7 linked regions of the Homo sapiens genome follow. The protein of the gene in region 1 purifies or fractionates together with the protein of each later gene. This does not show direct contact. Each region holds a gene or a part of one and is shown in the gene's direction. Other genes may lie near its edges.

Evidence for each region.
Region 2: the proteins of PREX1 (region 1) and CBS purify together in Homo sapiens (affinity purification with mass spectrometry, with the first as the bait; one large-scale study listed by BioGRID). This does not show direct contact.
Region 3: the proteins of PREX1 (region 1) and UTP25 purify together in Homo sapiens (affinity purification with mass spectrometry; one large-scale study listed by BioGRID and IntAct). This does not show direct contact.
Region 4: the proteins of PREX1 (region 1) and TPX2 purify together in Homo sapiens (affinity purification with mass spectrometry; one large-scale study listed by BioGRID and IntAct). This does not show direct contact.
Region 5: the proteins of PREX1 (region 1) and MTHFD1 purify together in Homo sapiens (affinity purification with mass spectrometry, with the first as the bait; one study listed by BioGRID). This does not show direct contact.
Region 6: the proteins of PREX1 (region 1) and PIP5K1A purify together in Homo sapiens (affinity purification with mass spectrometry; one large-scale study listed by BioGRID and IntAct). This does not show direct contact.
Region 7: the proteins of PREX1 (region 1) and SMNDC1 purify together in Homo sapiens (co-immunoprecipitation; one large-scale study listed by IntAct). This does not show direct contact.

The regions. Positions count from the first base shown.
Region 1 is NC_000020.11:48,821,057-48,825,277, reverse strand, and holds part of PREX1 (phosphatidylinositol 3,4,5-trisphosphate-dependent Rac exchanger 1 protein), read left to right. Parts: intron 1-3,633; exon of another isoform or gene 3,634-3,872; intron 3,873-4,221.
Region 2 is NC_000021.9:43,069,128-43,073,348, reverse strand, and holds part of CBS (cystathionine beta-synthase), read left to right. Parts: intron 1-7; 5' UTR 8-83; intron 84-1,147; 5' UTR 1,148-1,155; coding exon 1,156-1,364; intron 1,365-4,221. UniProt on the Homo sapiens protein: Hydro-lyase catalyzing the first step of the transsulfuration pathway, where the hydroxyl group of L-serine is displaced by L-homocysteine in a beta-replacement reaction to form L-cystathionine, the precursor of L-cysteine.
Region 3 is NC_000001.11:209,854,732-209,858,499, forward strand, and holds the end of UTP25 (U3 small nucleolar RNA-associated protein 25 homolog), read left to right. Parts: 3' UTR 1-2,834; downstream 2,835-3,768. UniProt on the Homo sapiens protein: Component of the ribosomal small subunit processome for the biogenesis of ribosomes, functions in pre-ribosomal RNA (pre-rRNA) processing. Essential for embryonic development in part through the regulation of p53 pathway.
Region 4 is NC_000020.11:31,794,212-31,798,432, forward strand, and holds part of TPX2 (targeting protein for Xklp2), read left to right. Parts: intron 1-190; coding exon 191-337; intron 338-3,192; coding exon 3,193-3,304; intron 3,305-4,153; coding exon 4,154-4,221. UniProt on the Homo sapiens protein: Spindle assembly factor required for normal assembly of mitotic spindles. Required for normal assembly of microtubules during apoptosis. Required for chromatin and/or kinetochore dependent microtubule nucleation.
Region 5 is NC_000014.9:64,454,016-64,457,822, forward strand, and holds part of MTHFD1 (C-1-tetrahydrofolate synthase, cytoplasmic), read left to right. Parts: intron 1-707; coding exon 708-860; intron 861-3,807. UniProt on the Homo sapiens protein: Trifunctional enzyme that catalyzes the interconversion of three forms of one-carbon-substituted tetrahydrofolate: (6R)-5,10-methylene-5,6,7,8-tetrahydrofolate, 5,10-methenyltetrahydrofolate and (6S)-10-formyltetrahydrofolate.
Region 6 is NC_000001.11:151,239,751-151,243,971, forward strand, and holds part of PIP5K1A (phosphatidylinositol 4-phosphate 5-kinase type-1 alpha), read left to right. Parts: intron 1-204; coding exon 205-289; intron 290-2,372; coding exon 2,373-2,519; intron 2,520-2,687; coding exon 2,688-2,817; intron 2,818-4,221. UniProt on the Homo sapiens protein: Catalyzes the phosphorylation of phosphatidylinositol 4-phosphate (PtdIns(4)P/PI4P) to form phosphatidylinositol 4,5-bisphosphate (PtdIns(4,5)P2/PIP2), a lipid second messenger that regulates several cellular processes such as signal transduction, vesicle trafficking, actin cytoskeleton dynamics, cell adhesion, and cell motility.
Region 7 is NC_000010.11:110,301,958-110,306,974, reverse strand, and holds the start of SMNDC1 (survival of motor neuron-related-splicing factor 30), read left to right. Parts: upstream 1-2,054; 5' UTR 2,055-2,227; intron 2,228-3,387; coding exon 3,388-3,507; intron 3,508-5,017. UniProt on the Homo sapiens protein: Involved in spliceosome assembly.

The DNA.
Region 1 (4,221 bases):
GTCCCCAAGCTGGTGCCAGAAACAGACGGATTGTGTAACCTGACCAGCCATACGTTGTTTGTGAGCCACAGGAGTCCTCTCTCATCTTGGCCCGTCAGGAATGGCCCCTAAACATCCCAAGGCATTTTCGTTTTCAAAACTAACCTGGGGCTTAGAGCTTCAGGAACTGCTAATTACCAAGGCTTTCCATGGTTGCAAGGCTGGCAGCCTCAGGTTGTGATTCTCTTCTGTCTTCCCACTCTCTCTTCTCAGCCTTTATATTTGCTAAGGGATTTTCCCTGCTGTCTCCTGGCTTGGAAGAATGCACGGTAATCCCTCCCTGCTTTTATTTCCATGTGGTTAGAGGCAGGCCTTAAAGGACCACCCTGGTCTCCGTGTGTCCTTGGTGTGAAGGTCCCATCGGCCCATGGAAACCGTGGAAAGTAACCCCCGTGATAGGGGCCATGTGTGGCTTCTGTCCTCAAGGAGAGGACGGTGTAGTGGAGGATGGCCAAATGGGTGTTTAAAAAAAACAATCCAAGTGCAAGGCTCTGGAGCCAGACTGCTTGAGGTTAAATCCTTGGACTTGTGACCTTGGGCAAACACCTTAACCTGTTTGAGCCTTATTTGTAAAAAGAGGGATGTTAATAGGTCCTATTTTATAGGTTTTTAAAGAAGATAAGTGAGTTATAGAAATTGATGTAAAGCACTTAGAACAGTGTCTGGCAGTAAGGTATATAAATATTGGTTATTATTGTTGTTGTAGGAAAATTAAATAATACAGATAATTAGGGTTGTGGGACTTCAGCATCCAGAGAGCAGGGGTGATCAGAGAGGGCTTCCTGGAGGAAGTGAGGTCTGAGTTAAGTCAGCACTGAGAGGAGGATGGGGGCTCTGAGTGAGTTTCCTTTTGACACCCTAAACTCCGGCCACAGGAACCAGTGGTTTTGTTTGGTTCCAGGCCGAGGGCTTTGTGGTTCCTTGAGAATCTTCCCATCTTTCCCCATCTCCTTCAGGAACTGGGTTGCACTCCCTCCCTCATCTCCAGGGAGTCCTCTGAGTTTGGTGTTTTGCGTGTGTTTATTAAATAATCATGAAAAGGCAAGGACAGCCCTTTCACAGAGATGCTGGATCGGTCTTGGGGGAAACAGTGCCTGGGGTTTTGACTCAGAACCTTGGCTCGAATCATTTCGAGGCCCTGGCTATGTGGGGTACTCCCCGTGTGCTCTGGGCAGCGTTAGTCATGATGAAAACAATGACAGTCATTGCTGTGCAGGAACTGACTTTGATTCATCACTTGCCATTCTAAGCACTTTGCATGTGTCAACTCATTTAATTTTCTTTATGAAGGGGATGCTGTTTTTATCCCCATTGAGAGGTGAGGAAACTGAGGCAAAGTGAATCTAAGTGAGCTGCTCTGGGTCAGGTGGACAGCATTGCCAGGATTTGATCCTAGGCTGCCTGACCCCACAACTCATGTCCCCAGCCACTTGATAGACCGCCTTTGGCTGATCCAAGAAGGGCTTGGCACATGATTTATTAAGGTGGCAGAACTGGGATTTGAACCCAGGTCTGTGTGATGTTTCACCTCCGCCTGCGCTTCCTCCTGTTACTTGCCCTCTGTGACTCCCATTCTTTTCTCCACAGAATGGGAAGAACTGTGGACGGATAGAAATGGCAGGCTGCCGAGTTCTTGCTCTGGGCTCCGGGTCTGTTCATGGCACGAGGGTTGAGTGAGGCTCTGGAGTCATGCTGCTGGTGTTCAAATCCAGGCTTCTTCCACTTGGACTGTAGGTGACCTTGGGCTGATCACTGACTTGCTCTGTGCCTCAGTTTCCACATCTGTCCAACGGGCACAGTGTAGCACCTGCGTCACAGGGATGTGGTGAAGCTTGCCCCCCACTCCCCTAGAGGAGGCTGAGTAGACCTTGGGCCCACCTGCCAAGGGGAGGCACCTCAGGGGCAGGTGCCAGTAACTCCCATGATGGGGTGTGTCAGCTGGGCAGTGGTCGAAAGAGAAGAGAGGGCCTGGGTGGGTGGGCAGAGAGGCCGGTGGGTGGGAGTTGGTCAGCAGCTCCTCGAAGGTCTCCCCGTGGCTGAGGACAGAGAGCTATAGAGACACAGAGGGTCTGCCCGGAACCGACCAGGATGGGAGTCTCTGAGGAACAGGGATTGTGGGCAGAAAGCTCCCAGAATGCTTTCTGTGGTTCTGCTTTTTGGAGGGAGGAGACAAAAGTTTTTCTTCTCATTGGAGCTCCGCTTGCCAAACAAGAAACTGTGGTTTTTTGTTGTCACTATTTTTTTTTCTGTTTTAAAAGATTCTGTACTCCTAGTCTCACACTAGGGAGAAATGCCACGGGTGGTTGGGGTGGGGGCAGGTCTTTGATTTCACAGTCATTGAGGCAGAGGGACCTCCCCAGTAACTTGGGGGGATTTTCACGTGGTCCTCATATGAAAAGTAGGATGCTGAGAGGTATATGTAACACAGTTCTTTTGGAAAATAAACAATAACCATAATATACACGTGTGTTATATGTATAAGGTGACATTAGGTTGGAGAAAAGGATGGAAGGATGTGTATCTTTTACAGAAAGGCAACCAGGAAGATAAGGAAGTAAAATCCTGTTTATAATACCCTTTTCATATAAAATTATGCATATGTATGCGAATATATTTTTTAAGAAGCCGACAGGAAGAATTGTATTTTCAACATGGTTATTAGATTAATGCAACAGTAATAATGGTAACAATTTGCTAATATTTATATACTTGCAAGCCCTGTTTATAAGTTCCTTAAGCATTAACTCAAAAGTTGCAGGTATTCTTATGCTTCCTGTTTTACAAATGAAACAAAGACACAGAGAGGCCAAGTCAGTTTCCCAAGGTCACACAGCCTGACAGAACTGGCACTTGGACCCAGGTAATGCGGCTGCATGGCCCACATTCTTCACCACTATCCTGAATTGCACCAAAATGAGGCTGTGTTCATGAGCAAAATTACTGCCCCTGTGAGACCTCTGGGCTGCCCAGGTGGGCAAGAATTAAGTCAAAAAGTCCACCTTATTTCAGTTTTCAGATGCCGGAGAGCCTGGAACAGGCCACCTTGTGTTGGGCTCATCATCATCAGGAAGTCAGTGAAAATCTTTTGATGGTAAAAACTGAGTGTCAGCAGGATTTAGATGGGTTACATTTTTTTTAATGTATGGCAGACAGAGAGCTCTGTACAGATAAAACCATGAAGATATGAGACTGCTTTTCTCTGTGTGCAGGTATTTATGGAGCATCTGCTGTATATCCTGGGCAGTGTTCTGGGCCACGAGAATGAAGTCATCAACAGGTCGTTGTCCTTATAAGAAGGACAACCCTGTGGGGATTCTACAACTCATTCTTCAGACAAACCTTCTGGAAGCCTACCTACTTTTATTCTGGTGTTTGCCCTGGTAGCAATTTAACTGTCACTTTAAGAAGACGCGAATGGGGTTGGTGTCTCTGGCTTTTGAGACTTCAGGGCACCCCTTTCTTGGAGAGAAAGATACTCCTTTATCAGGCCAGAGAGCTGAAGACCTGTTGGGCTTGGGGCCACTCCCTTTAATAAAGAAACCCACATCCTATTTGCTTCACAGCCGCTCTCCCTTAAAGGTTTTGCAAGAGTTTAAGTGTTTGAAGCAGGTCATGCCTGGCTGCAGGAGAACCTGACCTCTCCAGATTTTTGGGGCTTTTCTTTTTTTCCAACAGACACAGGCATGCTGGCTAGAATACTGGAGGGAGGTGGGTGATAGGGTGGGCTGCCCCTCAAACCTGTGTGCTGTGTCCCACAGCATCATTCCCCAGACATGGGGCCAGGTCGGAGCTGATTCCTGCCCTGCGTTTCGGAGATCTTGAACAGAAGCCAGGTGGGTCATTCGGTCTGAATCTCCTTGTTTTGCAGGTGACATAAATTGCGTCCCCAGAGGGGAGGTGAGCACCAGTTAAGGGCAGTAGCCACTCAGTTTGTTAGAGTTCCATCCCCAGATACCTGGGAAGAGAGCTTGGTGGCCCACATCCTTTTCTGGGGATCTGTGTTTTAGCCAGGATCAAAAATCCCCCCGTTTTTTTTTAAGATGGAGTCTTGTACTGTCGCCCAGTCTGGAGTGCAGTGGCGTGATCTTGGCTCACTTCAACCTCTGCCTCCCGGGTTCAAGCGATTCTCTTGCCTCATCCTCCCGAATAGCTGGGACTACAGGCACGTGCCACCATGCCCGG
Region 2 (4,221 bases), on another chromosome or scaffold:
ATTCCAGGATCCCATGACAGATTCTGTTGTCACGTCTCCTTACAGAGTTTGAGCGGTGCTGAACTGTCAGCACCATCTGTCCGGTGAGTGACGGCTGTGGACTTAGTCTTCCTGTTGAATGTGGGGAATCAAAGGAGGGTGAAGCGGGGCTGAGCCCAGTCCTGGGCCCTCTGAAGAAGGCAAGGTGGGAGGTGGTCGTGGGTTCCTTGTCCCCCCAGAGGAGGGGCAGCAGATGGGACCTCGCCTGGCTTTCTTTTTGCTTTCTTCTTTTTTTTTTCTGTCTCATCTATTTCAGGTGCGTGTGTGTGTTTTTAATCCTGGGTAAAATACACGTAACACTGATCACTGTAACCATTTCTAAGTGTGAGGCAACCACCGTGACTATCTCCACCCAGAACGTTTTCATCATCCCCAGCACAACCTCTGCACCCATTAAACAATCACCCTCCCTTCCCCACTCACCTCAGCCGCTGGCCGCTTCTATTCTACTTTCTATCTCTATGAATTTGCCAGACATAGAGGGGCGTTCGAGAGTCCCAGGTGCCTCATCGTGGAAGTGGAATCACACAGTATTTGTCCTTTTGTGTCTGGCTCATTTCGCTTGGCATAATGTCCTGAAGGTTCGTCCGTGTTGTAGCGTGTGCCAGAATTCATTTCTCTTAGGGCTGAGTAATATTCTAGTGTGTGTATGAGCCTACTGTGTGTGTTCATCCGTCTGCGGATACGTGGGCTGCCTCCACGTTTTGACTTGTGAATAGTGCAGCAGTGAGCATGGGTGTGCAAGCATCTGTTTTGTTGTTGTTGTTTTATTTTTTAAATAGAGATGGGGCTGGAGCCCAGGCTGGTCTTGACCTCGTGGACTCAAGTGGTCCTCCTGCCTCAGCCTCCCGAAGTGCTGGGATGAGAGGCGTGAGCCACCGCACCCGGCCCAAGCAACTGTCTGCTTCCATTTTTTTTGGTATATGCCTATAGGAGAGAAATGGCCAAGCGGCTGCCCACAGGGCTGGTGCCTGTGTTTTTGTGCAGTTCTTCCTGGGCTTCTCTGAGGGAGCAGAGCACGCCTCCCAGAGGGGGCCGGGTCAGCAGGGTTCGCTGGAACCCCACAGCATCCGAGCCTGAACCGACGCCTCTCTCCTTGCTTTGCCAGGTCCCAGCATGCCTTCTGAGACCCCCCAGGCAGAAGTGGGGCCCACAGGCTGCCCCCACCGCTCAGGGCCACACTCGGCGAAGGGGAGCCTGGAGAAGGGGTCCCCAGAGGATAAGGAAGCCAAGGAGCCCCTGTGGATCCGGCCCGATGCTCCGAGCAGGTGCACCTGGCAGCTGGGCCGGCCTGCCTCCGAGTCCCCACATCACCACACTGCCCCGTAAGTCCTGCTTTTGATCACAAGAGGGCTGATCCATAACCTGGAGGGCAGGAGTTTGTTACCTGGACACCACACAGCCAGGAGGACATGAGGTGTAACCCCCTGTAGTCACTCTGGATTGAGGAGCTGGGGGTGGGGCCATGCCGTGTAGATGAGGCTCTGAGAGGCCAAGGCCTCCTTACGCTGCAGCCCAGCGCCTAGGCCAGTGCCTGGCAAGACAGTGGATGCTCAGCAAGTAGTTCCAGAATAAATAAATAAATGTGCCCAGGTCACATGCTTTGCCCGGTCTGTGGCTGCGTGTGCACATTCACTGGAGGTGAGGGACCAGGATCCTGCCTGCGCTCTCTTATTTATTTATTTTTTATTTTTTTGAGACACGAGCTGGAGTGCAGTGGTGCAATCATGGCTTACTGCAGCCTCAATCTCCCCCAGTTAAGGGATCCTCCCACCTCAGCCTCCCAAGTAGCTGGGACTATGGGTGCCCACCATCACACCCAGCTGATTTTTGTATTTTTAGGAGATGGGGTTTCACCCAGGCTGGTCTTGAATGCCTAGGTTCAAGTGATCCGCCTGCCTTGGCCTCCCACAAGTGTTGGGATTACAGGTGTGAGCCACCGCGCCCGGCCCAGCCTGCACTTTTCCGTTAACTCTAGGTCATGAAGACTTCCCGTAGGCATTACATATTTTTCCATAAGGGCTGTTTTTCTGGTGGCACAGACTGTTCGGTGAAGAAGCCATCATTTTGTAAGCCCTCTACGGGGTAGATAGATGTTTGCAGTTACCTCATTTTACATAACTGCAATAGAAGATACGACACATTCATTTAGCCAACAAGTCTTTCCTCAGCGCCATGTGCATTTCGTGCCCTGCTCAAGGCGCAGAAGATCTATCAGTGGAAAAGACAAATCAACAAAAATCCCTACCCCAGCATGAAACTGAAATCAAGCTCACTAAGCCTTAGGATTATCTTTATTTCCTTAGTGTAATCTTGGAGGAGAACAAATAGATCAAAGAATGTGCTTCTTAGATGTTTGATTCCTTTTTTTTTTTTTTTTTTTTTGAGACAGAGTCTCGCTGTCACCCAGGCTGGAGTGCAGTGGCGCGATCTCAGCTCACTGCAACTTCTGCCTCCCGGGAAGCGATTCTCCTACCTCAGCCTCCCTAGTAGCTGGGATTACAGGCATGTGCCAGCACGCCCGGTGGATTTTTATGCTTTTAATAGAGATGGGGTTTCACCATGTTGTCCAGGCTGGTCTTGAACTCCTGACCTCAGTTGATCCACTCGCCTCGGCCTCCCAAAGTGCTGGGATTATGATTCCTATTTTGTGTCCACCACTACCAGCGTTTATGGTTGTTGATTTACAGTTCAGAATGGGTGGGGGTGGCTGGGTGTACTCTCAGTGCAGCAATAGAAAGAAAGAAGTGACAGTGGACAAACCCAGAAGGTCTGAGTGTCAAACATACTCAGTGCTGGGAGCTCAGGAGGCCAAGCAGATGTGTGGGCAGCCAGGAGGATGGGCTCTTGCTGCCAAGACAAACCCAAGAGAGCAGTGGGTGAGAGGCCCGGTGAGGTCGGGAGTGGCTGCTGGAGGGTGGAGTGGGCAGGGAAGACAGGCCCGATTCCTGAGGGCTCCGTGAGCTCCTAACTCTAGGGCATGAGAAGGAGACGATGCCCTCCAGGTTGTAAATGGCGTTGCACCTGCACCTCACATACTGGCCTCATTCATCCTCCGAAGACACCCCCATCCTGAGACGCAGAGCCGACGCCGCTTGTCTCCAGTCGGAGGGCCCCTGAGAATAGTGGCGTTGCGGGGAGGTGCTGCAGAGGTGGGTCAGGAGTTGGAGGTTCATTCTAGGACAGTGGCGTGTCCTCCCAGGAGCCTCTTGGGCTGTGGAAGTGGGAGTCCTTGAGATAAGGGGCTCCAGGGCTATCCCTGCAAGTCACATCCTTTTTCTTGCTAAGCGCTCTGGGCCTGGCCCTGATCACCTCTGCAAACTTCTCAGGTAACTTCACAGCCACCGAGGCCCAGTGCTGAGTCAGCACACCTGCTGCAGGGAGGCGGGACTCTTCCCGCCTGGCTGGCCAGATGCCCGAACTGAATTAATGAACTAATCCCCGGCGCTGTCACCCTGGGGCTTGGCTTTCCACCTGGCCCTGGCTCTCTACACCTGCCAAGCCTGGTTCCCTTCTGCCGAGAACTGCTTCTGAGGGAACCTCCCTGGCCCCTGTACAGTTTGGGGACCTGGCAGGACTGCCTTCTGCTCCCCGGGAAGGGTGCGATTGGATTCCAGCTGCTCTTGTTGGCGCCTGTTTTGGCCTTCAGGGTAGCTCTCCCTGCAAATGTGGCACTCCCTCCATGGCACAGGACCTCTGGGAGCTGGGTTCACCCCAGGTCTAAGGGTCGCCTCCTGGGGGGCAGGACCCAAGGACCCTGGCTGTTCAGCAGGTGACTGTGCTGAAGAGGGGGCCCAGGGTTAGCCACGGGGTGTCATCGGAGCTGCAAGGCCCAGGGAGGGGTTGCGGGTCTGGAGACCGCTGTAAGCCATGCGTGTTCCCAGATGAGTATGTGGTGAGCTTGGTGCAGATAGATAGGGGGTGTCATCAGCATCTCCCTGGGGGAGGATGGCAGGGGCATGAGGGCCATTTAGGAAACCACCTGGACCAGGGTTTGAGGGTTTACACAGCCAGATGCTGCAGGGCAGGGCATCACGAGCCTGGCCGACAGCGCCTCTGCCGGGGCTCTGAGTCTGCCACGTGCCTGACATTTTCTGTGCAGGGCTAGACATCCCGCCTGCGCTTTGCAGCCATTGTCCCTGGTCTAAGGAGTCTCTGCCCTGACACTTTTTTGCTTCCTAT
Region 3 (3,768 bases), on another chromosome or scaffold:
TTTATAGTTGTCTGAAGAGCCTCATTGTCCAACTGCAGGGGCCTGAGGTGCCCAAAGCTTCGTGGAAAAGTAATGTCAGTGGAATGCTCAGAAGTGGCTCTTTTCAGGGCACGGCTTCTGAGGAGCGTGGGGCCACCACAGCTAGCCCTCCCTCCGTCTAGCCATCCTCTCCTTCCAGTCCCTTTCCCATCTTTTCTCTCAAAGGAGCATGGTAGTGATCTTCATTACCAAATTTCTACTCCACACTTATTTTAAAAAGCTTTTCTGAAAGCCTGGCTACATAGAATTCTAAACAGATTTCAGTCAACTTTTAATTAGAGTCAATGAATGGGGAGTAAATACACAGATAATCCAAAATTGATGTAAGCATTGGAAGGGGAAAGAGGGAACGCTTCTTTCCCTCTGGGCTTGGTCATTTCCTCCCAAGCAAACCCCGCGACGTTCAGCCGTCTTCCTCCTATGCCACGTGCTCTCACCAGAACTGCAGCAAAACTGCATTTTATGTCCTGTGTCTAAAGCTAAACACATGTTCCTGTCTACTTTTGCTTTGTTCCTGTTTCCCTTCTGTGAGGACCTTCCCCTCCTCAGATGTGGGGAGTTGCCGCCTCCACTTGCATTACATGTATTTCAGAGTAGGTCCTAGGCTCCCCTTACACCTCTGGTCACGTTGCCATTATTCCTATGGTAGATAAAGGGGATGAGAAAGAACAGAGCTCCAGGCCTTTTTCAAACAAACTGGTTTTCTCAGTATAGCCCTATGCTCAAAAGGAGTGAGGACAGGTATGTGACTGCCATAAGGAGCTGTTTGCTTTGCACAGAGAAATCTAATCTTTCTCCTGCTGGGCAGCTCAGTACAGATGTCCCCTCACTGCTGGAAGAAACACCTGCCCTTGCTTGTTCTCCTGATGGCCCCTCACAGTCAGGTGTGGGATGGCACATTTCTAGGTGCTCCTCGCCGAGCTGTCATGGGCTTCAGTCTTGGGCCTCTGCAGCTGGCTGTGACCAGGTGGAAACTGTAGCCTTGGCTGACCCAGAGAAGGAAAGGAGGCAGTCTGCCGCTTGGCTGATTTAGGAGTTGTGCTGAATTCCTGCCCATCTGTTCTCCCAGCTGAGCCAAGGCCAAAGCTGTCTACCTTTTGCCAACCTAAGGAATGACACAGAGCATGGAGCACCATCACTGAAACATCTGCCCCAGTGCCCTGCCACCTTCGTCCTCACTGACCTCTGCAGCCTCTCTCATCTGCCAGTTTTGATTCCGCAAGGAGAGGTGGCCCTGGGCTCACAGCTGGTGTTTGTCCACAGATGTTCATGGGTTTCTTTGTGTTCTCTCATTTTTTCAAAGCTGGGTGTTGGGACCAACATCACCACTGACATTCTGTGGCTCTAAACAAGTCCTCACGACCACTTCTCAGTTTTCTCATCTTTATGAAGTATGGAGTAATCCCCACTAGCCTTATAGAGGGACTGTGTGAGAAGGGAAGAGACTGCTATTGTTTGCCCTATATCCACCTACTTCCCTAGTTCCAGAACGCTGGACTTTAATGAGATAACAAAGTACCTAGTAAAAACACTGCATCATTTTCCATCCCCCACCCCTTGCAGTAAAATGTGGCCCATGAGACAGAAGCACTAACTACTGAGCAGGACTTCTAGGGGAGTTCTTTAAAACTCAGAGGAGCACCACTTTTACCTTCTGCTCTTCCCTTTTTCCTGCCTGGAACGCAGAAGTGATGGCTGAAGCTCCTGAGGCTATAAGCTCTGTACGTAGGAGAGTGGTGAAGAAAGGAGCTTGGTTCTGCAAGGATGTTGTAGAGCTGCCATACCAGTCCTGCATGGTATTCCTGTGCACTACTGTTACGTGAACACACAAACACCTAATTTGTTTAAGCCATTAGGCCAGGCCTCTATTAGCCATTCCTGACTGATACAGAAGACAAAAATGGCATCACAGACTCCTGAACTCCAAAGACACTGCCTATTCTTTCGTCTGTTCTTGGCAAGCACCAACATTGAGACTGTACTTCAGGGTTGATGCTGGCCATTTGGTGGCGTGAGGAGTGGGCACTCACATGTCTCTGCTAGCAGTTCTGACGTGTCCATTCCACACTGGATCCATAGAACGAGGGAACACAAGTGTCTTCTCATAAGATTTATAGAAACAGTGATCGTTGCAGAAAAATAATTAGCAAGAGAACAGACTTCAGCTCTCTGAAGGCTGATGACCACCTGTTTCTCATCTCTTCTAGTGTATGTCAAAGCTAAATTAGGTCAAATAGGAAATAAGTCAGAATCCCCAATTCGATAGAAACTTACAGGTCTTGTGATCTAATCTGCCACTTGATCCGTGAATTACCTATAGGTCATCCCTAAGAGGTGGCCTCCAGCTTCTGCTTGAATTCCTTCAAGGATGGGGTGCTCATTGTGGCTTTTCTAATCATCTCTGATTGTTAGAAACACTGTGAAACTTTTATCCATCAGTCCTGTTTCTGAAGCTGTACGGTACAAATTTTTTTTTTCCCCACTTAAGGCTCAACTATTGGAATACATCTACCATGTCTCCTATGAAACTTGCTTCTCCAGGCCAATCATCCTTACTTCCTTAAACTTTTTTTTTTCCTGAAAAGTTATTCTTTTAATCTTATTAAAAAAGCAACCCATGCCCATTCCACAAATACAAGTGAAATAGTGAAAAACAAAAATCAAACTACATCTATTTGGTGATCATTATTAATGTCTTATGTTTCCTCCCAGATTGTTTTCTGCATGAATAATAACCAACAATGTGTGTGTATGTATATATATGCTTTTGCATTAAAAGGTGGTTTTGAAGGTAACATTTTTTGGAGTACTGATTAAGCGCCAGCAACTCTTCCAAGCTCTTTGCATGTATTACATCAGTTAATCCCTCACACCCGTTTAAGGTAAGCATCCTTATTTTTCCCGATTTCCACACAGGCAGCACAATCCTGAAAACCTACACTGTTTTTACTAGATAATTACTTCTCTAAAAACAAAACAATAAAAGCACTCAATAAATAGTAGTTATTATTACCCTTTTTAATGAAGCAATCCTAATTGTTGAACTCTTAAAAGGACTAAGGGATGGCTCACACCTGTAAATCCAGTGTGTCCGGAATTGGTAGGTTCTTGGTCTCACTAACTTCAAGAATAAAGCCGCGGACCCTCGCCGTGAGTGTCACAGGTCTTAAAGGCTGCGTGTCTAGAGTCTGTTCCTTCTGAAGTTCGGATGCGTTTGGACTTTCTTCCTTCTGGTGGGTTCCTGGTCTCACTGGCTTCAAGAGTGAAGCTGCAGACCTTCGCGGTGTTACAGCTCACAAAAGCAGCATGCACCCAAAGAAGTGAAGAACAAAGATTCCACACCAGGACAGAGTACGAGGAGATGCCACTGCTGGCTCCAGCAGCCTGCTTTTATTCTCTTATCTGGCCCCACCCACATCCTGCTGATTGGTCCATTTTACAGAGAGCCGATTGGTCTGTTTTACAAAGAGCTGATTGGTCCGTTTTGACAGGGTGTTGATTGGTGCGTTTACAATCCCTAAGCTAGACACAGAAGTTCTCCAAGTCCCCACTAGATTAGCTAGATACGGAGTGCTGATTGGTGTATTCACAATCCCTTAGCTAGACATAAAGAGTCTCCAAGTCCCCATCAGATTAGCTAGATACAGAGTGCCCATTAGTGCATCCACAAACCCTGAGGTAGACACAGGGTGCTGATTGGTGTGTTCACAAACCTTGAGCTAGATACAG
Region 4 (4,221 bases), about 17 Mb from region 1:
CTGATCACACTGCTGGTTATAGGCAATATTAGGAGGAAAGCCTAGATTTCCTTTTGAACCCATTATTCATTCTTTCATGCTGCTTTGAAAGGTTTCCTTCCTTATTTTTCAGATTCTTCCAGATATTCTGGAGCAGCTATTGCTTTCCAGCTAGTCTTTATCTTAAACCTCATGTTTTCTTTTCTGTTAGGTGCCCAAGTTCAAGGCACTTCCCTTGCCTCATTTTGACACCATTAACCTGCCAGAGAAGAAGGTAAAGAATGTGACCCAGATTGAACCTTTCTGCTTGGAGACTGACAGAAGAGGTGCTCTGAAGGCACAGACTTGGAAGCACCAGGTAGGGGATGGGGAGAGCAGCCAAAATGTTAATTGCTTGGTTGGTTGATTGTACAGGCAGACCCACCATACTGAAATCACCTGGGTTAACATGCTACATTGTTTCAGGGGCTCTCACTGTAAATCAGGGGTCAGCACATTATTTCTGTAAAGGGCCAGATAAGAAATATTTTAGGTTTTGTAGGTTACATATGGTCTCTGTCGCATAGTGTGTGTGTGTGTGTGTGTGTGTGTGTGTGTGTGTATGTGTGTGTGTACGCACACATTTTGTTGTTGTTGTTGTTGTTTTTTGAGACAGAGCCTTGCTGTGTTGCCCAGGCTGGAGTGCAGTGGCACAATCTCGGCTCACTGCAAGCTCCGCCTCCTGGGTTCACGCCAGTCTCCTGCCTCAGCCTCCTGAGTAGCTGGGACTACAGACGCCCACCACCAAGCCTGGCTAATTTTTTTATATTTTTAGTAGGGATGGGGTTTCACCGTGTTAGCCAGGATGGTCTCAATTTCCTGACCTCGTGATCTGTCCGCCTCGGCTTCCCGAAGTGCTGGGATTACAGGTGTGAGCCACCACACCCAGCTACATGTTTTCAACTCTTTTTTTGTTTGGTTTGAGACAGAGTGTCGCTCTGTCACCCAGGCTGGAGTGCAGTAGTGCGATCTCGGCTCACTGCAACCTCCGTCTCCCAGGTTCAAGTGATTCTCCCACCTCAGCCTCCCGAGTAGCTGGGATTACAGGCGCGTGCCACCACGCCCAGCTAATTTTTGTGTTTTTAGTAGAGACAAGGTTTTGCCATGTTGGCCAGGCTGGTCTCAAACTCCTGATCTCAAGTGATCTGCCCACCGTGGCCTCCCAAAGTGCTGGGATTACAAGCATGAGCTGCTGTGCCCAATCAACTCTTTAAAAATGTAAAAACCATTCTTAGCTCAAGCGCTGTCCTAAAACAGGTTGCAAGCTGGATTTGGCCTGTAGGCCAGAGTTTGCTGACCCCTGCTCTAAGTGATCACCTGGGAATGTCCCCTGCTCCAAGTGATCACCCGGGGAATGTGGGAACCGACAGGCTTTTCTGGAGTTGGGAGTTTCTTTAAGATCTTATCTATTCCATCTATTAGACTCATTCATTGTGTTTATTCCTTTCTGTTGATGCATTGGTAAGAAACAGTATGGGAGAATAGATTGAAATATACAATGCTGTTTTCTCAGCATGATGTGCTATTTGCTCTTTATAAATGACAGGTGATTTAAAACAATTAATTGGTTATTTGCTGATTTAATTGGGATCTAATTCTACGTGGCTGGAAAAAATTTCCCCTGAATTTCTAAGTTTTTTGGATTTTTATGTCATCATTAATCTTGGATTCTTTCCAAAAGGAGCTCTAGGCTATTGTTTGTTTGTAGGAATTACCCCTCCTGAAGCCCGAGAGTTGTAATGGCTTACATGACTGAACGTTGGTCCCCTGTTAGTGTGGTTCTCTAAGAAACCTTAGGACTGTTGCCTTGGAAATAGTGAATTTTCCCCTCTCAATGACCAAGACACAGAATGTCTGTGTAGGGCATTTTCTGCAAAGAACAACAACAAAAACAATTGTTTTAAAAAGCTTTTCAGAAATATAAAAGTAGGGTGAATAGTATAATGAATTTTCATGAACCCATCACCTGGTTCTATAGTGATCAAAACATGAAAAGTCTTGTTTCATCCCAACTTCTACCCACTTATCTTACACTGGATACTTCTACCTGTGTAAGATTACTTTGAAACAAATTCTATGTAACATCCCTTTTCATCCAAAAATACTTCAGTGTATATATTTAAAATATAAAGACTTATAACCACAATAATATTCTCACACTTAAAAAGATTAAAAATAATCAAATATCTGCACATTTCTCATAATTTTTTAAACAGTTGAATTGTTAAAATCAATATCCATATATAGTCTACATAGTGCCTTTGTTTGCTAAATCTCCGAATCTTCTTTCAATCTATAGGCTCCTCTCTTTGCATTTTATTTGTTGAATAAACTGGATTGTTTGTACTGTAGATTTTCCACAATCTGGATTTTGCTGATTGCGTTCCCACACAGTTGTCTAACATGTTCCTCTGTTGCTTGTATTTCCTATAAATGAGTAGTAAGATCTGGAGGCTTGATTCAATTCTGGTTAGATTTTTTTTTTTTTTTGGAGGTGGGAAGAATACTTTATAGGTGATACTGTATAGTTCCTAATGAATCATGTGTGAAGGCAGAAAATGTCTAGTTGTTTATTTTTATGATATAAAGATAGGTCTTAAAAGTACCTTTAAAATTTTTTGTTTTTTTTAATTGACAAATAATAGTTGTACATATTCTTGGGGTACATAGTGATGTTTCAATATGTATAATGTGTAATGATCTGATCAGGGTAATTAGCATATCCATAATCTCAAACATTTATCATTTCTTTGTGTTTGGAATCTTTTTTTTTTTAATTTAAAAGTAAACTTTAGCACACCAACATGGCACATGTATACATATGTAACAAACCTGCACATTGTGCACATGTACCCTAAAACTTAAAGTATAATAATAAGAAAAATAAATGTGAACATAAACTAAAAAGAAAAAAAAAAGTAAACTTTAATGTCGAAAATGCAAACTTGGGAATCTTAAAAGTATCTTAAAAATGCTTTCTAGTTCTCAGTGAGTTCAAATGTTGTCAGACTGATCTGTTCATTGTAAAGTTTGTGTGAAAGATTTTTACTAGGGTTTATATTAAATCTGCTATTTTTATTGATGAAGCAGTTCAGACATTAGAACTTAAGTTATTGAGGTAGTGGTCATAGAAAGGTGAGACATTGCTCATCTGACTGACTTTCTCTCTAATAGCTGGAAGAAGAACTGAGACAGCAGAAAGAAGCAGCTTGTTTCAAGGCTCGTCCAAACACCGTCATCTCTCAGGAGCCCTTTGTTCCCAAGAAAGAGAAGAAATCAGTTGCTGGTAGTATTATATGTACTCTGATGGGACTCGGGCAGAATTGTCAGACTTCCCAGTGGGATGCTGGAATTCAGTGTGTCAGTACAATGCTGTGTCAACTAGAAGCATTTGACTTTAGCAGATGGTAGCTTTTCTTCCCCTAGACCCAGTTTTTTGCCTTTATTGAACCCAGCAGCTATGTTGAGTTGCAGGATGTGTTAGGGCCAGATTCATTTAACATGAACCTTGGCAGAAGCAGCTGGCATTTCAACAACAATGATAGGTTTTCCCCATCCACAGAGAAACAAGTAAATGAGGGAGGGAGAGCCAGTATGGCTTTCTGGAATTCACCCTGAAGCAAACTTTAGATATAAAACATTTGATTCCTTAAACACTGGGCAGTGTGCTAGAATACTGGGATTCCACCGGGTGTGGTGGCTCATGCCTGTAGTCCCAGCACTTTGGGAGGCCCGGACAGGAGGATCACTTGAGCCCAGGGATTTGAGACCAGCATGGGCAACATAGCAAGACCCCATCTCTTTTTCAAAAAAATCTTTCCAAAAAGGGAAAAAAAGAATATTGGGATCTTTCTTCTATGTCTGCCTCAAAATCAATCACTATATAGTTTTGTGCAAGCTACTTTATGTCTTTGCCTTTTTCCCAATTACACCAGACGATTTCCAGGGGCCCTTTGAACTCTTAAAATTCTAAAACTTTTTGTATTTAGTTGGCTCTACCTTTCTCCCAATGGGGCTTGTTTAGAGCACAGTCTTCCTGTTAGTGTGCATGTCTGTGCCACTTGCTCATTCCAGGGGGCGTAGGTTTATGCAAGTCCTGCTTGTGCACCAATATTTTTTCTGTTTCTGTACTTAGAGGGCCTTTCTGGTTCTCTAGTTCAGGAACCTTTTCAGCTGGCTACTGAGAAGAGAGCCAAAGAGCGG
Region 5 (3,807 bases), on another chromosome or scaffold:
CACAGTCCCTGGTTCTTTATTTACCCATAGGCGTTATATGAATGTGTAGAAATCCATGAGGAAATACAGAATGTCTTACCAAAATATTGAGAACGTCTCCAGTTTTTGTTATTTTGAGATAGGGTCTGGCTCCATTGCCCAGGCTAGAGTGCAGTGGCACAATTTCAGCTCACTGCAGCCTCTGACTCCTAGGCTCAAGCGATCCTCCCACCTCAGCCTCCTGAGTAGCTGCGCCTACAGGCACGCACCACCACACCTGGCTAATTTTTGTGTTTTTTGTTGAGATGGGGTTTTGCCCTGTTGCCCAGGCTGGTCTTGAACTCCTGGGCTCAAGCAGTCCACCCATCTCAGTCTCCCAAAGTGCTGGAATTTATAGGCATGAACCACTGCACCTGACCCTCTCCAATTTTATTCTCATATCTACTCCAAACTATTATTTTAAATTAGTTTTATGTTATTTCCATAGATGGAAATAAAATATTCACTTGTGGACTACAGTTGTGAGTACCTAACTCCCTCACCCAACAGTTCTTTTTTTTTTTTTTTGGCTTAATAAATAAGCTGGAGGACAGCAAGATAGAGATGTATATAAAGGGAGTTGGATGTTTCGAATAAATTGAAGAATCCATGTAATCACAGGGCCCAGATGGTCATTGCTGGGTTGTCATCTTTTCATTTGTCCTCCCTCTCTTCCCTTCTTTCCCCAGGGCTTTGGGAATCTCCCCATCTGCATGGCTAAAACACACTTGTCTTTGTCTCACAACCCAGAGCAAAAAGGTGTCCCTACAGGCTTCATTCTGCCCATTCGCGACATCCGCGCCAGCGTTGGGGCTGGTTTTCTGTACCCCTTAGTAGGAACGGTAAGTGCATGCTGCAAGGGAGTAGTGGGCGCATCTGCACTTCTCGTCTGAAGTGTGTTGCCGAAACCATCAAGCAAATGCCAAGTGAGCAGAGTTCACTGCCCAGAAGAAAATTGGAATCGGGCCTATTATGATTGCTGTGGATCATAAGCTATAAAGCAGGAGCTATATAGCTCTTGCTGTGGACCATCTTGGTGTCAAATCAAGAATGATGCCAGGACTACTCATACTGAATAAAAAATTCTGTTTCCCAGGGACAGTATGCTCTTCACTGAATCTAGGATGAGCCCAGTTGATAGGCTGGGGTAGTGCTAACATAATCACAGTTAATGTTTATTGGGAGCCTTACATAGATTAACTCAGTCCCCCCACAGCCCTAGGAGGTAGGGACAGAGGTTTTACTGACAGGCCTAGAACTTACGTCTGAAATTCAGGGGGTTCATTATTTTTAAGTAAGGAATTTCCCCATTAAAAAATGCAAATGGACCCTTGAGATATGAAAGGTGAGGTTGCTTATTTACGCTTCAAGGTGAACAAGGTGTCCATTGCTTTCTTATCTTACAGATTTTATGCATATTCAAAGAAGAATATTGCCAGTTGGGAAGCAGAGGGGAGGGATGCTTAAGGACATAATCATAGTTTGGGCTGACATTGTTCCAAGGTTAACTTGGATCCTGAATCTAGGTTATCCCCTAAATCTGCCCTGTATCCTGTATCTACAGATTGTACTGCCATGCAATACAGGACTGAAATATTAAACTAAATCAACACACATGGAAAAGAAACCAACATACATCCTTTTGGATTTATGTCATTCTTTCAGTATAGTAAGAAAGTGGTAGGAGGTGGCATTATAGAGTTGAAAACGTAGGACATTAGAGCTGAATTCATTTTCACCTCTTCAGATCTTGGCCTTGGGCAAATTATGAAAGGTGAGAGCCCTGCTGCCCTCAGCTCACACTGTAGGCAACATCATCACATCACAGTGGTGCTTAGCACAAATGCCTGCATCTCACTGCCTCCTTAGCTCTCTATAGAGAGCAGAAGGCTTAGACTTGCTATGATGTACATCAGTCTCCAGGATTTGTAGAAATCCCTTGTGGTAGGAATTTTCCACCATTTTTACCCAGCACCTTGAATAGTGCAGAAATATGTGTTGTTCTTTTTGGAGAAGTTGTCAGCAGCTACCAGCTGAAAGACGGGTAGCTGTACTCTTTCTTGTCACTTTTGATCTTCACATGAAGAAAAGGGTAACAGTAGAGGTGAAAGCAAATCTGGAAGCAGTCAGGCCAGTGAGAGTCAGGCTGTAAGGTGGAGAGAGACACAGCCTGCCGAACTCAAGACTTTCTCATTTAGAACAAAGTATGTGTCAGAGGCTTTTAACTTTAAGTTGGACCAAGGCGTTTCCACACATGATCAAATGGTTTAATCACTATTCTAACACCTTCCAGTTGCCGTTGGGGCCTTAACGAGACTCAGATTATTTGAATATTTTCTATATTAATTCAAAGTGTGATGGCTTATTTTCAGAACTTTATATCTAGGTTCATACATGTGCGTACACATAATATTGTCTTTTTTTGTATTTTTTCTGATTATCAGTGACCAGTGTTTAGGAGGGAAAATCCTCTTGGGGAATGAGTGAAAATATCAAAAATCCTACTCATCACTGTTTAGGGAACCATCTTTAGGGTTTTCTGCTGACATGCACATGCCCGTCTACAACAATGGGCATGTGTCTTTTATCTTTATAATGTCATCTTCCGGTTTTTCTGCTGTGTCTAAGGACCCATCCTTTCCTCTCTCCTACTTGTCTCACACCTAGCACCTCCTTACCTCTTACACAATATAAGAATATAAACCAGTTGTCAGATCCCTATAATGTGTTTTGGGGAATATTGATTGGTACTCAGAAGTCAGTCAGAATGAGGTTTTCTAAAGTATTGATGATGTTTTGTGTTACAGAAGATGACTCTTTTTAAATAACCTTTTTATAGTTAAGTTTTAGAAGTAACCTAAGCTGTTTTCCTGTCTAGATTTGATTTGGAACTTGTGTGTATTCATTATATAGGACATTGTTACAGATAAAAATATACGGAGTTTTCACTTGCAAGCCGTACATATTTGCATCTAAGTAGAAATTTGTCAAAGCCGAGTCTTTAGAAAAGTAGTGAGTACAAATATAATTTGTAAGCATTACAAGTTTAGTTTTAGAAGGCCATTTTGGGCCAGTAAGAATGGTGATTATAAAACCATCTAGATTATGTACAAAAGTGTCTTGGCCCAAGTTAAAGGATACTAACTCCTACCATCGTGTTGCTGAAGCAAAAATCACATGGGCAGCTCAGCTAGCAAGACTGAACGAAACAAAATTTAAAAGCAGGCAAGCCCTGTACCTCCTTTTGGTCTTGCAAAGCGTGAGCTGAGGAGGCGAGTGAGCAACTCCTCTACTCCCCAGCACTCATTCTTGTAAGGTGAAGGTGGAAACACCTCCTGCTACTGCTTGTGACCACATGGAAGATGATAGTGAAGGCTGGCATTTGGTTTGCAGAAGGACATGAGGAATCAGTTTCTTTTCTTTTCCTTTTTTTTTTTTTTGAGATGGAGTCTTGCTCTGTCACCCAGGCTGGAGTGCAGTGGCAAGATCTCGGCTCACTGCAACCTCCGCCTCCCAGGTTCAAGCGATTCTCCTGCCTCAGCCTCCCAAGTAGCTGGGATTACAGGCACACGCCACCATGCCCAGCTAATTTTTGTATTTTTAGTAGAGATGGGGTTTCACCATGTTGGTCAGGCTGGTCTCAAATTCCTGACCTCAGGTGATCCATCTGCCTTGGCCTCCCAGAGTGCTAGGATTATAGGCATGAGCCACCACGCCCGGCAGGGATCAGTTTCTGAGTTTTTTAACAGGATCAGTGACTTGATTTTTAATATGTAACAAGAGTACCCA
Region 6 (4,221 bases), on another chromosome or scaffold:
CTCCTGACCTCAGGTGATCCGCCCACCTCAGCTTCCCAAAATGCTAGGATTACAGGTGTGAGCCACTACGTCTGGCCCCTTCCGTTTATTTCATCTGTAGGTTTTACCCTTCTGCTAGGGGCTCAGTCTGGGGGAAGATGGCCCTTGGACTAGAGTTCCTCTTGCCGGGCCTCCTAACTCTATAGCATTTCTTCTGCTCTGCAGGACACTGTCTCAGTGCATCGCCCAGGCTTCTACGCTGAACGGTTCCAGCGCTTCATGTGCAACACAGTATTTAAGAAGATTCCCTGTAAGTGGTTTCTACCAATTGACTGCCTACTCCTGCCCAGTGGCTCCCTTACCCCAAGAGAACAGAGGGCAGGACACCTCTGGTAGGGAGCTGCCAATGCCAGAGGCCTCTCCTTCCACCTACATCCCATGAGAGCCATTTCTTGTCCTTTGTGTTAGTCTGTCATAGTCATTTCCAAGTTGCTGTTTCCCCCTTGGCTCTTCCTGCATATGTCAATGAGGTGAGGACCATTTCTGGGGAATTGGGATTTGCAAAAAAATAAATAAATAAATAATGTGTAGTTGTGGATGTAGGATCCATGCCACAGAGATAGGCAGAGCCTATGTACAGAGATACGCAGTGAGGTTAATGGTGTTCTGTTTTGTCTTCTAGACTATCTCAGGTGGTTACAGAAGCATTTACTGATTTCTGCTTAGCACATGTTTTTAGTCTCTTTTCTCAACTTTCTTGTTTAGGAAGTGCCAATATTTTTTTGCAAATCTTCCATGCTGCTGCCATAGCAAATTCTAGCTTCTCTTTCCCTTCTTCTCATATTAGGCATCATTATTCCCATAGCGAGGGAGAGGGGACCTAGGCATGCCAGTCTTAAGGGATATGGAAAAACCAGGCTGGGTGCAGTATCTCACACCTATAATCCCAGCACTTTGGGAGACCAAGGCAGGAGGATCGGTTAAGCCCGATAGTTTGGAACCAGCCTGGGCAACATCATGAGACCTTGTCTCTACAACAAATTTTAAAAAGATAAAAAAATCTTTACAAAGTGATAAAAATTACAAGTATCAATTATTTAGTGCTGGGCACATACATGCTAAGAAAATGTAGAGTGAAAGAGTTATCTTTCTTGGCCCGGCACGGTGGCTCACACCTGTAATCCCAGCACTTTGGGAGGCCAAAGCAGGTGGATCACCTGAGGTCAGGAGTTCGAGACCAGTCTAACCAACGTGTTGAAACCCTGTCTCTACTAAAAATACTAAAATTAGCCGGGTGGTGGTGAGCACCTGTAATCTCAGCTACTCAGGAGGCTGAGGCAGGAGAATCACTTGAACACGGTAGGCAGAGGTTGCAGTGAACTGAGATAGTGCCATTGCACTCCAGCCTGGGTGACAAGAGAGGAAACTTCATCTCAAAAAAAGTTATCTTTCTCAGGTTTTACTATAGGATACTATTAAAGAAAAAGGGGGGCCAAGCGCAGTGTCTCACACCAGTAATCCCAGCATTTTAGGAGGCCGAGGAGGGCAGATCACAAGGTCCGGAGATTGAGACCATCCTGGCTAACACGGTGAAACCCCGTCTCTACTAAAAATACAAAAAAAAATTAGCCGGGCATGGTGGTGGGCTCCTGTAGTCCCAGCTACTTGGGAGGCTGAGGCAGGAGAATGGCATGAACCCGGGAGGCGGAGCTTGCAGTGAGCCAAGATGGCACCACTGCACTCCAGCCTGGGCGACAGAGCAAGACTCTCGTCAAAGAAAAAGAAAAAGGGGGCAGGGCAGTGGCTCATACGTATAATCCCAGCACTTTGGGAGGCCTAGGTGGGCGGACCACCTGAGGTCAAGAGTTCGAGACCAGCCTGACCAACATGGTGAAACCCCGTCTCTACTAAAAATATAAAATTAGCTGGGTGTAGTGGCGCATGCCTGTAATCCTAGCTACCCAGGAGGCTGAGGCATGGGAATCACTTGAACTCTGGAGGTGGAGGTTGCAGTGAGCCAAGATCGCGCCATTGCACTTCAGCCTGGGCAACAAGAGCGAAACTCCATCTCAAAAAAAAAAAAAAAAAGGAATTATGCAATAGGGTACATTTCATCTGATGGAAGTAAAGCAGTCATCAAGGCTCCATGTTGGGGGGTTAGGTGTGGATATGTTTCCTTTCTTCTAGGTTTTCATGCCTCTTGGAAAGTGAAGTGAGCTAACACCTTGTTCTCTGAATAGTAATTCATAGGCCTGTCTTTGTTGACATTAGCCTTTTCACTTTTCAGACCAACTTTGGGTGTGTGTTGGGGATACTAGCAATTATTTGTATCTATGTCTTGGTAATAGTTGCTAAGGTAGTTGCTAAGTAGGCTCTCTCTTTCCCTTTTGAAGTGAAGCCTTCTCCTTCCAAAAAGTTTCGGTCTGGCTCATCTTTCTCTCGGCGAGCAGGCTCCAGTGGCAACTCCTGCATTACTTACCAGCCATCGGTCTCTGGGGAACACAAGGCACAAGTGACAACAAAGGCAGAAGTGGAGCCAGGTCAGCGCTAGGGCTGGGGTCCCCATGTGATTGGGTACTCCCTCCCTTCCTTCTGAGCCTTTATCTTGTCTGGCCAGGACCTCTGCTCCCATTTCTATCCAGGAAGCCTAGCTGCTACATATTTTTCCTTGTATTTACTGTACCCCATCTTCTCTATCTTTTTTCCAGGCGTTCACCTTGGTCGTCCTGATGTTTTACCTCAGACTCCACCTTTGGAGGAAATCAGTGAGGGCTCGCCTATTCCTGACCCCAGTTTCTCACCTCTAGTTGGAGAGACTTTGCAAATGCTAACTACAAGGTTGGTTTATTGGCCCCTTTCTCCATATAATCTTATCTCTCTTTTCAAGTCCTTGGAAACCTCTATAATTTGATTGCATCATAATAAATTACCCCAAAGATTAGTGGCTTAAAATAACAAACATATATCATACTTTCTGTGGGTCAGGAATCCAGGCCCAGCTTAGCTGGGTCCTCTGGCTCAAGATTTCTCATGAGGTGGCATTTAAGCTGTTGGCCAGGGCTGGGGTCTCATCTGAAGGCTCAAACAGGAAGATCTGCTTTTAAGCTTATTTATGTGGTTACTGGTAGGATTCTGTTCCTTGTGGGTTGCTGAACTGAGGGCCTTAGTTCCTTGCTGGCTGTTGTCTGGGGGCTTCCCTCAGTTCTTTGCTACATGGACTTCTCCATAGGACAGCTCAGAACATGGCACCTGGGCTATCTGACAAGTGAACAAGAGAGCATGTGCCTATGCAGAAACCATGGCCTCTTATAACTTAATCTCAGAATTGACATTCTACTTGTGCTACATTCTGTTCACTAAATGCAGCCCACACTCAAGAGGAAGGAATTACCCATGGGTGTGAATACCAGGAGGTGCAGGGATCATTGTGAGCCATCTTAGAAACTGCCTGTCATAGTCTGCTCTCTGGTCTCCAGTAATTTACATACCTCCATGTCGAAAATACACTGACCCCCTCCCAGGGTCTCATCCCATTGTAGCGTTAGCTCAGAGTCCAGAGTTTTATTACCTAAATTAGGTCCGGTTGGATGAGCCCCCCAGGTATAGTTCCTTAAGCACAGCTCCTCAAGTACAGTTCTTCTCAATCTGTGAACTTGTGGAACCAAAGAGACAAGTTATCCTTTCCCCATGTACCTAGCATACAATGGTGAGACAGGCATTAGATAACCAATATACACATTTCTGTACATAAAAGGGGAGAATGGGAGGCACAAAAAGGAGTCATTGATTTTATTTGCTGTTCCAAAATCCAGGAAATGTTGGAGTTTCTTTTATCAGGCCTCAAAGCAGAAGAATAATTCTCCGTGGTTCTTGGCTCTACCCTCTAGACTCTTGGTTTTGTCTTCTGAGTCTTCCTTTTTCATCAAAGCTAGAGTGTGTTTTTACCTGAGTTCTTTTCTCAGGCTGCTTCTTTCCAGTAGAATTTTAGGGGAACTAGTGGTCTCTATTTTGTACTGTTTCTGTCCTTTTTGATCCAAGATGGCAGTGTTTCTACTGATACAGAAGATTTTGTGGGCCTCCTGTGATTCTCCTTGGGATTTACTCCATTAGACAAAAGCCACACTCATAAATATCTTCTTTATGAGACCTAAGCTTCTTACAGACTCTGTTTTTCGGTTGAAAGGATCTGTGAAACATAATCTTCTGAACAGCCTTTTGTATGACTGAATAGCACAATCAGCC
Region 7 (5,017 bases), on another chromosome or scaffold:
AGATACTTTTTTTTAAATAAACATGATTAAGTTTGAATGCAAATGTTTTAAGAAAAATCAGACACTGAAAGTAAATTTTGACACTTCAAAGGAAATAGTAATTCAGAAAGCCTATTTGAAGTATTGCTCTTAGTTTTGTCTGCTCCAGTTTTGTCTGGAGCAACACCGCATACAATTGTGAAAATTAAATGAACCTGTGTAAAGTGCTTAGAATGGTATCTGGCACATACAAACTGTTATTTCTTTGTGAAAATTAAAATTCAATATAGCTTTTCTTTATAAATGAATGTTGCATAGATAAAAACAATCCTAAAAACAATCCTGAAAAAATTATTAAGATGGTATAGAAATCTATGATGGAACTTATAATGAATATTTGCCTATTTTCTGATCTATGGGGTTCAGGAAAAGTTCTCATTTAAGAGATTTTTACACAATAAGGTTGACTTTATATTCAAGGAAGTTCCTCCTCGCATCGGTTCTTAAAACACACAATTACAATAACAGAAGTTCTCTAAAACTACATTTTATTTTAAACGAATATTTATTTAAAAGCACATGCTTTCTGTTTTGTCTGCCTTCTTAATTCTAGCTACACACTGCTGCCCTCTGCTGCAATTTCAATCTTTCACACTCACAAACCCGACCTAGTTTCCATCTATACAGGTTATCTGACTCACTGCAAGGGTTATGTGTGTGTGTGTAGAGAACAAAAGGGAAGGCTCCTTGAAAAGAAAACTAGGAACTAAAGATGTTGGCACAGTTCAAAAGAGCCCATCTGAGAAGTGGGCCTTTTTTTTTTTTTTTGAGACGGAGTTTCACTCTTGCTGCCCAGGCTGGAGTGCAATGGCACGATCTCGGCTCACCGCAACCGCCGCCTCCAGGTTCAAGCGATTCTCCTGCCTCAGCCACCCGAGCAGCTGGGATTACAGGAATGCACCAACATGCTCGGCTTTTTGTTGTTGTTGTTGTTGTTGGTTTTTTTTTTTTGTATTTTTAGTAGAGACGGGGTTTCTCCACGTGGTCGAGCTGGTCTCGAACTCCTGACCTCAGGTGATCCGCGAGAAGTGGGCCTTTTTATGGATCCAGCAACAAACTCCCAACCTCCCAGGAAAGGTTGCTTCCTGTCATCTATATAAAACTTTGTGTCTCAGGCCTTTATTGCTTTTTTAATTGAAATAAATTATATATATATGGTTTAAAAAAAAAAGAAAAGGAAAAAGGGTAAACAGCAAAGAGGGTAATCAATAAAACATTTGGCTTCCACTCCAAACCTCTGAACAGTTTTGTGTATCCGTCCAGAAAGCGTATATATTATTACAAACATACACAAGGGGCATTTCTTTTTGAACACAAATGTGAGTATTCCTACCACTCTTTACCATTCTAGACTAACTTGGACGTTGTTCCCTATCAGGCGAGATTAACCCAACTAAATTAAAACCAAGTAGGTTTTAACAAAACAGATTTTAAAGAAATCAATCTTCTCTCCAATAGGTTATTTCTGTCACGATTTAATTAGCTTTCTGTTACTACTAAGGCTTGTATCATATAAAGTAGTGGTTCTCAGGCTGGGCGCGGTGGCTCACGCCTGTAATCCTAGCATTTTGGGATGCCGATGCAGGAGGATAGCTTGAGCCCAGGAGCTGGAGACCAGCCAGGGCAACGTAAAGAGAGCCCCCACCAACACCCCCCGCCACCCACCACCACCGCCCCGGAAAAGCAGTGGTTCTCAAACGTCAGCGGACATTGGTATCATCTGGTGAGCTTATTAAAACAAGAGTCTCTGGATTCAGGAGGTCTGGGGTGGGGCTTGAGAATTTGCATTTCCAATAAATTCCAAGCCGGAACTCCAGGAAGATAACCTGCATTCCGCGCCTGGCGAAGCCCAGCTACGCCATTTCCTTCCTAGGCCCCGCCTACTTCGTGTCCCTGACAGCCAGGGACTGGCTAGAGGGCGCGCGGAGTCACGTGAGTCGAGCGACCTCGCGCGAGAGTTTGTATTTCTCGCGAGACTTCACCGTCTCTGTCTTTTCCTCCTTCCAGTGCCCGGCGTTCCTCCCTTCCCCCTCGCCGCCGACCGAGTTCTTCCTTTTCAGACCGGGTCGCCTTGCTGTCGTCGCGGTGATTTTCCTGCTACTGCTACTGCTGCTGCTGCCACCGCCACTACCACTGGGCTCATTTGCCCCGACCCCTTCCCGCCGCCCCGCCCCCAGCCCCACACAAGGTAACAACCCCCCTGAGGGAGAGAGTAAGGCCTGGCCGGGCCCGGGTCCCTCCCGAGGTGAAGCGGAGGCCCAAGGCTGAGGAGCCCGCCTCGCCGGAGACGCCCAGGCGCTGGCCCTGGATCCCGGAGCCACGGCCGTCTCTCAGCCAGAGCTGAGCCTCGGCGGCCCGGCCGGCGCTGGCCTCCGTGCGGCGGCGGCAAACACGGCCCGCAGGGGACCGGGTCGGGTGGGGCTGGGCGCCGCGCGGCTCCCTGTGGAGCCTGCCTGTTGGAGCGCGGCGGGGCTCCGGCGGTGGTCTTGGAGCTGGCGTGTGGATTTCCACGTCCGAATGATCGAGTTGTGGCGGGCTTTGAGGTGCTGCGTGGCGGGGAGGAGAGCAGCCTGGGTCGCTGTAACTCTTAGGGGGCCTTTGCAGGCTCCCAGCCTTTGGTTGGACGGGAATTTTACGAAGGAGAAGGGTCCTCGGAAACGTGGTACATTTGCTTATAAACCATCAAAAAAGGTTAATTGGTATCTTATTTTCAGGAAAATGACTGAGCTGGATTTGGCGAAAGGCACATTCGTTAGAATGCCTAAATGGGAGAGTACCTGTGCTGTTCTTTTTGCTGAAGATAATGCACCGATAAATATTTAAGCGACTGGGCGAAAGATTTTTGTTTTGGAGAGGCACTTTTAAATACACTCTTAATTGAATAGTTCAAGTAAAGATCGTAGTTTGTGTAGTTAATTTAAAAACGCACTTGTTTGGCTTTGGAAGCATACTGTAGTGCTTAAAAATAAGTATTTGGATTGTTTTTGAAAGTTTCGACTTTTCCAACAGAGTAGTGCTTTTTAAAAAGATAACACTGATTATTGAGCCGAATTCAGCACCTACCCTGTGGATAGGAGTTAAAAGAAAATTAGAAATTTCTTTGTATCTGTATGCTTTTTTAAAGTATGGAATGTATCTCAAGTTTATAATCCTCAGAATCTGTTGCCTTTAAGTTTGTGGTTTAGCTGAAGTCTAAACTGAGAGTAAAGGTAATGGTGGTAAATTAAGCTGCAGTGTTAGAAGGAGTTAGAGGCAAAAACTGGTAATTCAGGCAGACAGGGGAGTTAGTTTTTTATGCCTTGATTTTTGGTTTAGTTTTCATGGTCTAACCCTTTTTATTTTCCCTAGATGTCAGAGGATTTAGCAAAGCAGCTGGCAAGCTACAAAGCTCAGCTCCAGCAAGTTGAAGCTGCATTATCTGGAAATGGAGAAAATGAAGATTTGCTAAAATTGAAGAAAGATTTACAAGTAAGTATGGGTAGACAATTGTACTTTTTCTCTGTTTTTCAAATTATTGCTTGAATCCCTAAGTACCCAAAGCGCCTTTTGAGGGGTTACACCCCACCCTATGTATATATGTAAATTCTGTAGGTACCATTGCTTGTAGAAGTAGGGTTGCTTCCCCAGTTCTCAGGTTTCTGTACATCAGAGTGAAATATTGTTCTTTGTTATATAAATCTTGTGTGCTTACATAATTTTTAAAAACTAAAGTTGATAGAAATTTCCAAGTCTGTCAGATTTTCAAGACGAGAGGTACATGTAACTTCACAATGAAAAACGCTTTTAGTTTTTAAGACCTGGCAAATGAAATTTAGTTCAAAAAGTAACAAAGATTGAAGGAGAAAAATAGAACCTTAAGATTCTTTTTAATACCACAAGATTCTTTGAAAATGCGTGCCTTTTTTTTTTCCCCAAAGCTAGTGGATTACATTTTGTATTGAAAACACACCACAAAAATGCCTAAAGAGAGACAAGTGCTTTGTATAATTGTTACATAGATGTTCAGACTTAAGGCTAGGTTTTACAGTAAAGTTGTTGACACTTGTGGAAATTGAACTATGTGGTGAAAAGGAGATCTTTGTCATGGTAGAGTTTAGTAGATAATGAAACCTTTTTTTGAAAACCTGCACTGGGATTTCAAGACAAACATAGAGCCATCATAGTAAATACCTTTTGTGTTTCAGGACACCAGACTGATTCAGAAAAATGCCATATATAATTTGCAAATATATATGACTTTTAAGAGCTTCCTTTAAATTCTGAACCTGATTTTTAAAAAGTTTCAAGGGTGTTTTGATTAGAGATTGCTTTACCGACTGAGTACTAAACTCAAATCTGTATCCTGTCTAAAAATTCATTCCCTCCCTTTATTATCCCACTGCCCGTTAAAACTATTACTATTTTAGGGATATCAGAACTGCAAACAAACTTAACGGAAATAGGGTCCGGATTTGGGATTCTGGAACTGCTTATCTGGGCGTAATTAAGATGAGTTGAATACTTTCAAGTTCTACATTTAGAATAAAATTGCAGTAGTATGTTATTTTTAAACACACACAAACTATCTGGGTTAATTTCAATATGAACAAGACCCCTCTTCGATACGTAGAAGCCAGGCCTGTGGGCTTCAGGGTGCCAGTCAATACAAAAAAGATGTTTTGGGAGCAGTTTCTCCCACTCCCAGGCCCTTAAGTGAGAAATAACCCAGTGGTTTGCCACCTGTCCATTTGATTTGCTCATATGTTGTGAGTATACATTGAAGATGAGGCAACAGAGGCACACCGACCTCTTATTTTCTTACACTCTGTAAAGTGCTTTCTGTTTGCCCCAAAGAGAGATGCCTTGACTACCTTTACCAACTTAAGCAGTCCTTTTTTAGGAAAAGAAAACACTGGGTGCCAATGTTTTGTATATTGCTTCTTGGGCAGTGGGAGGAGGGGTATTTGTTGAACTGGTTGGGTTGGGGAAGTTGGGAGTG